Homo sapiens: one gene and its partner. The protein of the gene in region 1 purifies or fractionates together with the protein of each later gene. This does not show direct contact. Each region holds a gene or a part of one and is shown on either strand. Other genes may lie near its edges.

The links.
Region 2: the proteins of POTEJ (region 1) and VARS2 fractionate together in Homo sapiens (co-fractionation; one large-scale study listed by BioGRID). This does not show direct contact.

What each region holds. Positions count from the first base shown.
Region 1 is NC_000002.12:130,631,650-130,635,464, forward strand, and holds part of POTEJ (POTE ankyrin domain family member J), read left to right. Parts: intron 1-840; coding exon 841-1,007; intron 1,008-3,815.
Region 2 is NC_000006.12:30,920,423-30,924,237, forward strand, and holds part of VARS2 (valine--tRNA ligase, mitochondrial isoform 2 precursor), read left to right. Parts: coding exon 1-14; intron 15-245; coding exon 246-327; intron 328-642; coding exon 643-719; intron 720-807; coding exon 808-883; intron 884-1,166; coding exon 1,167-1,269; intron 1,270-1,502; coding exon 1,503-1,573; intron 1,574-1,693; coding exon 1,694-1,819; intron 1,820-2,027; coding exon 2,028-2,132; intron 2,133-2,283; coding exon 2,284-2,352; intron 2,353-2,475; coding exon 2,476-2,554; intron 2,555-2,681; coding exon 2,682-2,809; intron 2,810-2,930; coding exon 2,931-3,083; intron 3,084-3,815. UniProt on the Homo sapiens protein: Catalyzes the attachment of valine to tRNA(Val) in a two-step reaction: valine is first activated by ATP to form Val-AMP and then transferred to the acceptor end of tRNA(Val).

The DNA of each region.
Region 1 (3,815 bases):
ATTATTATGGAACAATCCTGAATGGTGCCATAAAATGCTAGGTAATGCCACTTTAGGAGCTTTGGACCAATCATTTTATCTTTCTTGGTTTTAGTCTGATTATCAATAGATAATGTGGCTAAAGAAGATAGCTTCTTATTCTGTGTATCTTCCAGCTAGATAATTGTATGGCTATTCAATGTGAAATTTGGGGAGCATCTCATTTTCTGGAATTCCATGCTTGCACGTCAGCAGTTTCACTCTGCTTCTTGTGTTTTGGCAAACTTTGGCTCCCATTTTCAGTGAGCACCATCATGTTTTTGATATCTCAGCAACCAAATGAAAAAAGAATGCTCAAAGGCAGTGGGGGAGAAGAATATCTTAGCGCAGAAAAGGGCAAACTTCCTTTCTATTCCTGAAGCCGCACAGTGTGTCATCCTCTAAATCTGACTGTTTAATGTAAAATCTAGGTGGTAAAGACAGAAGACACATTTTGCATCTTTGTCTTTTTATTTGCGTGTTCCCATGAGTCAAATGGGGTAAATACATACATAAGATTCTGAAGAGTGATTGAGAATAAAAGCACAAAATGAAGGAGGGCCCTTTTTGAATTTTGGAAAATTCTGTTTCATTCATTGAAACAGAAATGAAGCAAACTTTACAAAAATTTCTGTGATATATTAATGAGATGATAATTACATCTTAAAGTTATATGGTAATATTTCTATATATATGATCAAATTTAAGTGTGAAATATTTTTAATGACTAAAATAATGACAAACTGAGTCAATTGATAGAATCAATTAAAAAGGTTCTTTTTATTCAATAAAGTGATAACTATCCTTAATATCCCACTCAAGGTTGAAGAAGAAATGAAGAAGCATGAAAGTAATAATGTGGGATTACTAGAAAACCTGAGTAATGGTGTCACTGCTGGCAATGGTGATGATGGATTAATTCCTCAAAGGAAGAGCAGAACACCTGAAAATCAGCAATTTCCTGACAACGAAAGTGAAGAGTATCACAGGTAAGCCTATGGCAACATTGAACAGGAGATAACTATGTGCTGTCAAACTAACCCTAGTTTGGGCTAATATTCATGATGAACAAATTTTATAGTTTTACTAGGATATTCAGCCTTGCCCATTAATCAGAAAAATGAAAATCAGCGAACAATGAGTTACCATTTTTCCAGTCATTAATTTATTTGAAAAATAACCAGTATTGGCAAATGTGAGGGAAAAGGCATTTTCTTTTCTTTTTAGTGAACTTTTCTTTTAGTTTCAGGGGTACATGTGCAGGGTTATTATATAGGTAAAGTGTATCATGGAGATTTGGACGGCAGATTATTTCATCAGCCACATAATAAGCAAAACACCAAAAGTTAGTTTTTTGGTCATCTCCCTCCCGCGACGCTCCACCTTCAAGTAGACCCTGGTGCCTGTTATTCTCCTCTTTGTGTCCATGAGTTCTCATTATTTAGTTCCCACTAATGAGTAAGAATATGTGGCATTTGATTTTCTGTTCCTGCATTAGTTTGCTTAGGATAATGGCCTCCAGCTCCATCTGTGTTGCTGCAAAAGAAATGGTTTCATTGTAAAAGACATTTCATACACTGCTGGTAAATACATTTTGAACATTAATTTAGTAGCATATTCACAAACACATGTATAACAATAAGGATATATAATATATGTAAAGGATATTTGTGTAGATTTGTTACATATATACTTATGTATAAGGACATTTATTACAGCATTATTATATCAAAAAGATGGATCCTTATCAATAGGAAATTATCATTATCAAAAGTAAATCATTACCAATAGGAAATAGCTCAATTTTCATACCCAGAAATTAATGTAGTATGCAACCATTTTTTACAAGTGAGGTTAGATCTAGAGTATACTGATTATTTCACAATTAAAGTGTATTTAAAGCATCAGTGATGACATCTTAAGAGTTCTTGTTAAAATTCTTGTAATATTTCCTGTGTTGCAAATGGAAGCTACATGCTATATTGACGCTGTACCTTGTTAGCAACAAGATTGCTAGTTATTAAATTTTTATTGTCAGTGCCTGAGTGCTGAAATATTGGACCCTCAATCTGAATATTGCCAAGGGATTGTACATGGGGATCTGTATTTAATATAAACGTTTCAGTATATTGGGTAAAACTTTTATTAAAATATATCAAAGGATCTTTCATCTGCTAAACCAGGAGTTGGCCAGCTTTTTCTGCAAAGAGCCAGTTAGTAAATATTTTAGGCTTTGTGGACTATATAAATTAATTTATTTTTGAGACAGGGTCTCACTCTGTTTCCCAGGCTGGAGTGCAGTTGTGTGATCATGGCTCACTGCAGTCTTGACTTTCTGAGCTCTAGTGATCCTCCCACCTCAGCCTCTCTACTAGTTGGGACCACAGGTGTGCAACATCACACCCAGCTAATTGACACTATGGACTGTAAAGTGAATAAGCATGGCTGTGTTCCAAAATACTTGACTTACAAAAACAGGCAGTGGGCTGGATTTGGCCCAAGGTGCTAATTTGCTGACCCTTGTGCTAAAAGGAAGGTGCTGCAAGTGAAGTGACTCTTATTTGTAAAAGTGCCCTGCGTGTGTGAAATTATCCTTCCTTTGAGAAAAGGATATATTTCAGTATTCACCTCACCATATTTTTCCACAGTGACTTCATATAATTTTAAAAATTTCATTTATAAAATAAGATTATTGTCTGCATTTCTCCCACTTTATTCCTGTTAATAGAACCCAGTATTTTGCTGTGATCAATTACTTTGTATATTTGATGAGTATCAGTTGTCCTAGAATTGGCTGATTTTATCAAGCAAGAAATACTCTCCTTGAAACTTTTAGTATTTCTTGGTCTTTATGCATAAGCATGAATAAAATGATAATCAGCTTATGTGTAATCTAGAAATGTTCAAGGCGACTTTTAGTTCTATAGTTTTAAGAATTTAACACCTCAGTCTGGCATTTTTAATGCCACATGTGTATAATTTTTATAACCTTTAAAATATATTATTGTTATATAAAATTTGAAAACTACACCTGTTATATAAAACTTGAAACTATTTGTCTATTACTTTTCCATGACTGTGGAAGAAAATTACAACATTCTCAGTCATGACTCCTAAGCATGATGTCCTTAAAAGAACTGTCCACACTCACGAACTCAAATTTTCTTTTCATTCACTCTTAATCTCACACCGGCGTCTTCAATTTCAGCAGTCCTCCAACATTGTTTTTCCTCAAGATTATCACAATTTTTTTCTGTAAATTATGCATTTTTTCTTACACCTCATTTTATTTAATCTGTCAGCAATATTTGAGCCAGTGGAGGGCGTCTCCTCCCTAACGGCGTCTTCACTTGGCTTTCAGGACCTCACTCCCTCAAGCTTTTCCTCCTGCATTTCTAGTCCATTCATCATGGTCTGTTTTGCTTGCTCCTCCTCATCTTTCTCCTTTTGGACATTGTTGTTTCCCAGGGCTCAGTCCTCAATCTTCTTTCTCCTGACTTTTTCTTTTTCTTTTTTTGAGACGGAGTTTGACTCTGTCCCCCAGGCTGGAGTTCAGTGGTGTGATCTCAGCTCACTACAACTTCTGCCTCTTGGGTTTAAGTGATTCTCCTGCCTCAGCCTCCTGAGTAGCTGGCATTACAGGTGTGTGCCACCATGCCTGGCTAATTTTTGTATTTTTAGTAGAGACAGCATTTCCCCATGTTGGCCAGCCTGGTCTCAAACTCCTGATCTCAGGTGATCTGTCTGCCTTGGCCTCACAAAGTGTTGGGATTACAGGTGTGAGCCACTGCACCCGG
Region 2 (3,815 bases), on another chromosome or scaffold:
CTGCCCATCTGCAGGTAACCTCATTTTAACTCCTTTACTAAGGGCTACCCCAAAAGGGAATGTATGGAGCTTAAGGGTGACAATAGGATGGGCTCTGCACCCCTCCGTTAGAATACGAGCTCCGTGTCGGTTTTATTCGCTATTGTATCCTCAGTACCAAGGGCCTGGCATGGCATGGGGTCTTGTGCCCCTGGGAGAAGTCACAGGGCCGGAAGAGCAGTGGACTCACCCTGTCTCTCTTTCAGCCGTTCTGGGGATGTGATAGAATACCTGCTGAAGAACCAGTGGTTTGTCCGCTGCCAGGAAATGGGGGCCCGAGCTGCCAAGGTGAGGCTGCAGTGTAGGAAGGACTGGGGCCAGGGGTTGGGGGAGCTCCCTGAGAATTGGAATGAAGAAATGGGAAGCAGGAGACCTCCTGCCCTGAAGACCTCTCCAGCTGTGGTAACTGAGAGGATGTGTGGGATGGAGGCTGGGCGGCCCAGCAAGGGCTGGCTCATATCCTTACTCAAGCCCAGAATCTTGGCAAGAGGCTTGGGAGGTCCTTTCTGAGTTTTAAAATGACCTCAGAGGCCACTCGTCCTATCTGTGGAGGTGCGGCCGTGCAGGAAGGGCAACATTGTCTAAAGTCCCCTTTCTCTCCAGGCTGTGGAGTCGGGGGCCCTGGAGCTCAGTCCCTCCTTCCACCAGAAGAACTGGCAGCACTGGTTTTCCCATATTGGGTAAGGGTAGGGTAAGGGGAGCTCTTGTGGAGATGGGGAGGGGGGACTGACTGGTTATTCTAAGACTTCACGAATGTCCTCCCGGCAGGGACTGGTGTGTCTCCCGGCAGCTGTGGTGGGGCCATCAGATTCCAGCCTACCTGGTTGTAGAGGACCATGCGCAGGTGGGTAGGAAGAAGCACCCGGAGGGCCGAGTGTGGCACAGAGCACCTAGCCCAGGAGTCAGAGCTCCGCAGGGCCAAGTCCCGCTCCTGCCTGGTCATGTGCTTCATGCTCATAGTCATGTAACCTTCTGCGCGATCAAGGCTCCCTGAAGTGGCATTTCTTTATCTCACCCCTGGGGGAACCTGGCCACTCTAAGACCACATGAGGACGTGAAAACCAAGTGACATTTACACCTGTCAGCTGTTCTTCCTCACTCTCCCCAACCCCTTCCTACTTTTGCAGGGAGAAGAGGACTGTTGGGTGGTTGGGCGGTCAGAGGCTGAGGCCAGAGAGGTAGCAGCGGAACTGACAGGGAGGCCAGGGGCAGAGCTGACCCTGGAGAGGGGTGAGTGCCTGAGCTGGGGAGGGATGTACAGGGGAGCGGGGGCCTGGGCATCTGGGCCTTTGAGGGGAACAGATCCCAAGATACAGAAGGTAGGGTCAGGAAAGTTGGGAATGGAGCCAAAGGGGACAGCCCTGGTCTCTGGGGGTGGGGGTTGGCCTAGAATGGTGGCAGCAGTGGTCTGAGGTCCTAGAAGCCAAGGTTCCAACTGTCCCCATTCTTTTTCTGTTTCCCAGATCCTGATGTCCTAGACACATGGTTTTCTTCTGCCCTGTTCCCCTTTTCTGCCCTGGGCTGGCCCCAAGAGGTGAGGTGGGTTGAGAGGGCGAAAGTGAAGGGGAAACGATAAGGAAGGGATGGCTGGGCCCCCACAGAGGCTTGAGGGGGGCCTGGGGCCTGGGCCTCTTACTGCTCCTCTTCCCCCTAGACCCCAGACCTTGCTCGTTTCTACCCCCTGTCACTTTTGGAAACGGGCAGCGACCTTCTGCTGTTCTGGGTGGGCCGCATGGTCATGTTGGGGACCCAGCTCACAGGGCAGCTGCCCTTCAGCAAGGTAAGAGCCCTTCAGTGCCCTGCCGCTTTCTGTGACTCCAGTGTTCCCCAAACCTTGTCCTCCCTTCTAACCCCTAATGTGGTCCTTTCCACGTTGCTGATTCCTTTTTCCTAATTCACTTCCTACCCTACCCCCAAAAGTATGGAGGCCAGAGATCCCAAGGCACCTCCAAGGAAACCCCCCTCTGTTGACCCCTCCCTGCCCCCAGGTGCTTCTTCATCCCATGGTTCGGGACAGGCAGGGCCGGAAGATGAGCAAGTCCCTGGGGAATGTGCTGGACCCAAGAGACATCATCAGTGGGGTGGAGATGCAGGTGAGGACGAAGCACCCACTAGAGGGACAAGGTTTGCAGGGTTTGCAGGAGAGAGGAAGGCAGGCTGAGGGAGGAGTGAGGCCAGCAGGTGTGACCCTTATAGAGGCAGGGCCTTCGACCTGGGTCGTGAATTGCCCCCTTCCATCCCCAGGTGCTGCAGGAAAAGCTGAGAAGCGGAAATTTGGACCCTGCAGAGCTGGCCATTGTGGCTGCAGCACAGGTGAGTCATCGCTGCCTGCCCCCCACCAGCTCTAGCTCACCACCTCTGGCTTCCTCTGCAACCCAGGTCCTGGCCCTGCAGCCACAAAGGCATCTGCCACCCTTCTTCTTCCTCTGGTTGCAGAAAAAGGACTTTCCTCACGGGATCCCTGAGTGTGGGACAGATGCCCTGAGATTCACACTCTGCTCCCATGGAGTTCAGGGTAAGCCTGGGCGAGGGGTGTCGGGGTGAGCAGAGGGCAGCGGGCACCTGTGCAGGGGCAGGGCAGGGGCAGGACTTCTGGTGCTGCTGCCACCTACATGCAGACTACCTCGATTCTTCCCTTCCAGCGGGCGACTTGCACCTGTCAGTCTCTGAGGTCCAGAGCTGCCGACATTTCTGCAACAAGATCTGGAATGCTCTTCGCTTTATCCTCAATGCTTTAGGGGAGAAATTTGTGCCACAGCCTGCTGAGGAGGTAAGAGAAAACAGAGGTGCTTGGGAGTAGGGTAGTCAGGTGTCAGAGGGCCAAGGTGGCATCTGGAAGGAAAGGAGGCAGGGGAGGGGGAGTCAGGCCATCCTGCCCCCTCTGCCTGCAGCTGTCTCCCTCCTCCCCGATGGATGCCTGGATCCTGAGCCGCCTTGCCCTGGCTGCCCAGGAGTGTGAGCGGGGCTTCCTCACCCGAGAGCTCTCGCTCGTCACTCATGCCCTGCACCACTTCTGGCTTCACAACCTCTGTGACGTCTACCTGGTGAGTGAGGCTGGGGGAGGCTTGGTATTCCCATGCCTGCTTCTAATTCCTCTGGAAATTTCCAAGGCAGAGAGCTCTGGAGTTAATAAGTTCCCAATTGTCCCCTCAGTTAGGAGAGGAGAGGAGACGAGGGAGTCTCAGTTCCCCTCTTCCTGGGACTGGTTTTGGCAGTGCAGCCCAGGCACTGTTGCCTGCCTGTCACCTGGGGAGAGGAGGAGGAGGGAGACTTCTAGAAATGTCTGACAAGTCGGTGTCAGAAGGCAGAGGGGAATTTTTTCAGTCCCTGTAGTTGCTGAGTTTGGCCCATGGGCAGGCTGCGTGCTGAGAGAGGCCTGGGAGGGACTAGCAGCGGTCTTTAGACCAGGGGTTCTCACGCTGTCCTACGTCCAAAGCACCTGGAGGGCTTGTTGACGGTGGATCCCCCCCGCTCCACTGCCACCCCAGAGTGGCTCCTTTAGCAGGTTGGGGTGGGGGTGGGTGGTGTAATGAATATTCATTTCTTGTCCCAAGTGGTGCTGCTGCTGCTGGCTGTGGACCACTGCCCTAGCTCAGCCTTTTAAAAACCTCTGTCCCCTGTTGATAAGCAAAAAACTCAATGATTTTTTTCCCTAAACTACATGTTTCCCTGGAAATCCTGTCCCTGTGTACTGCAGAGAATTGCTGTCCTGGAGTCCCCTTCTTTGTGCTGAGTGTGTCCTGGGACTGTGGATCATATCAGAAGTGCTAAGTGCT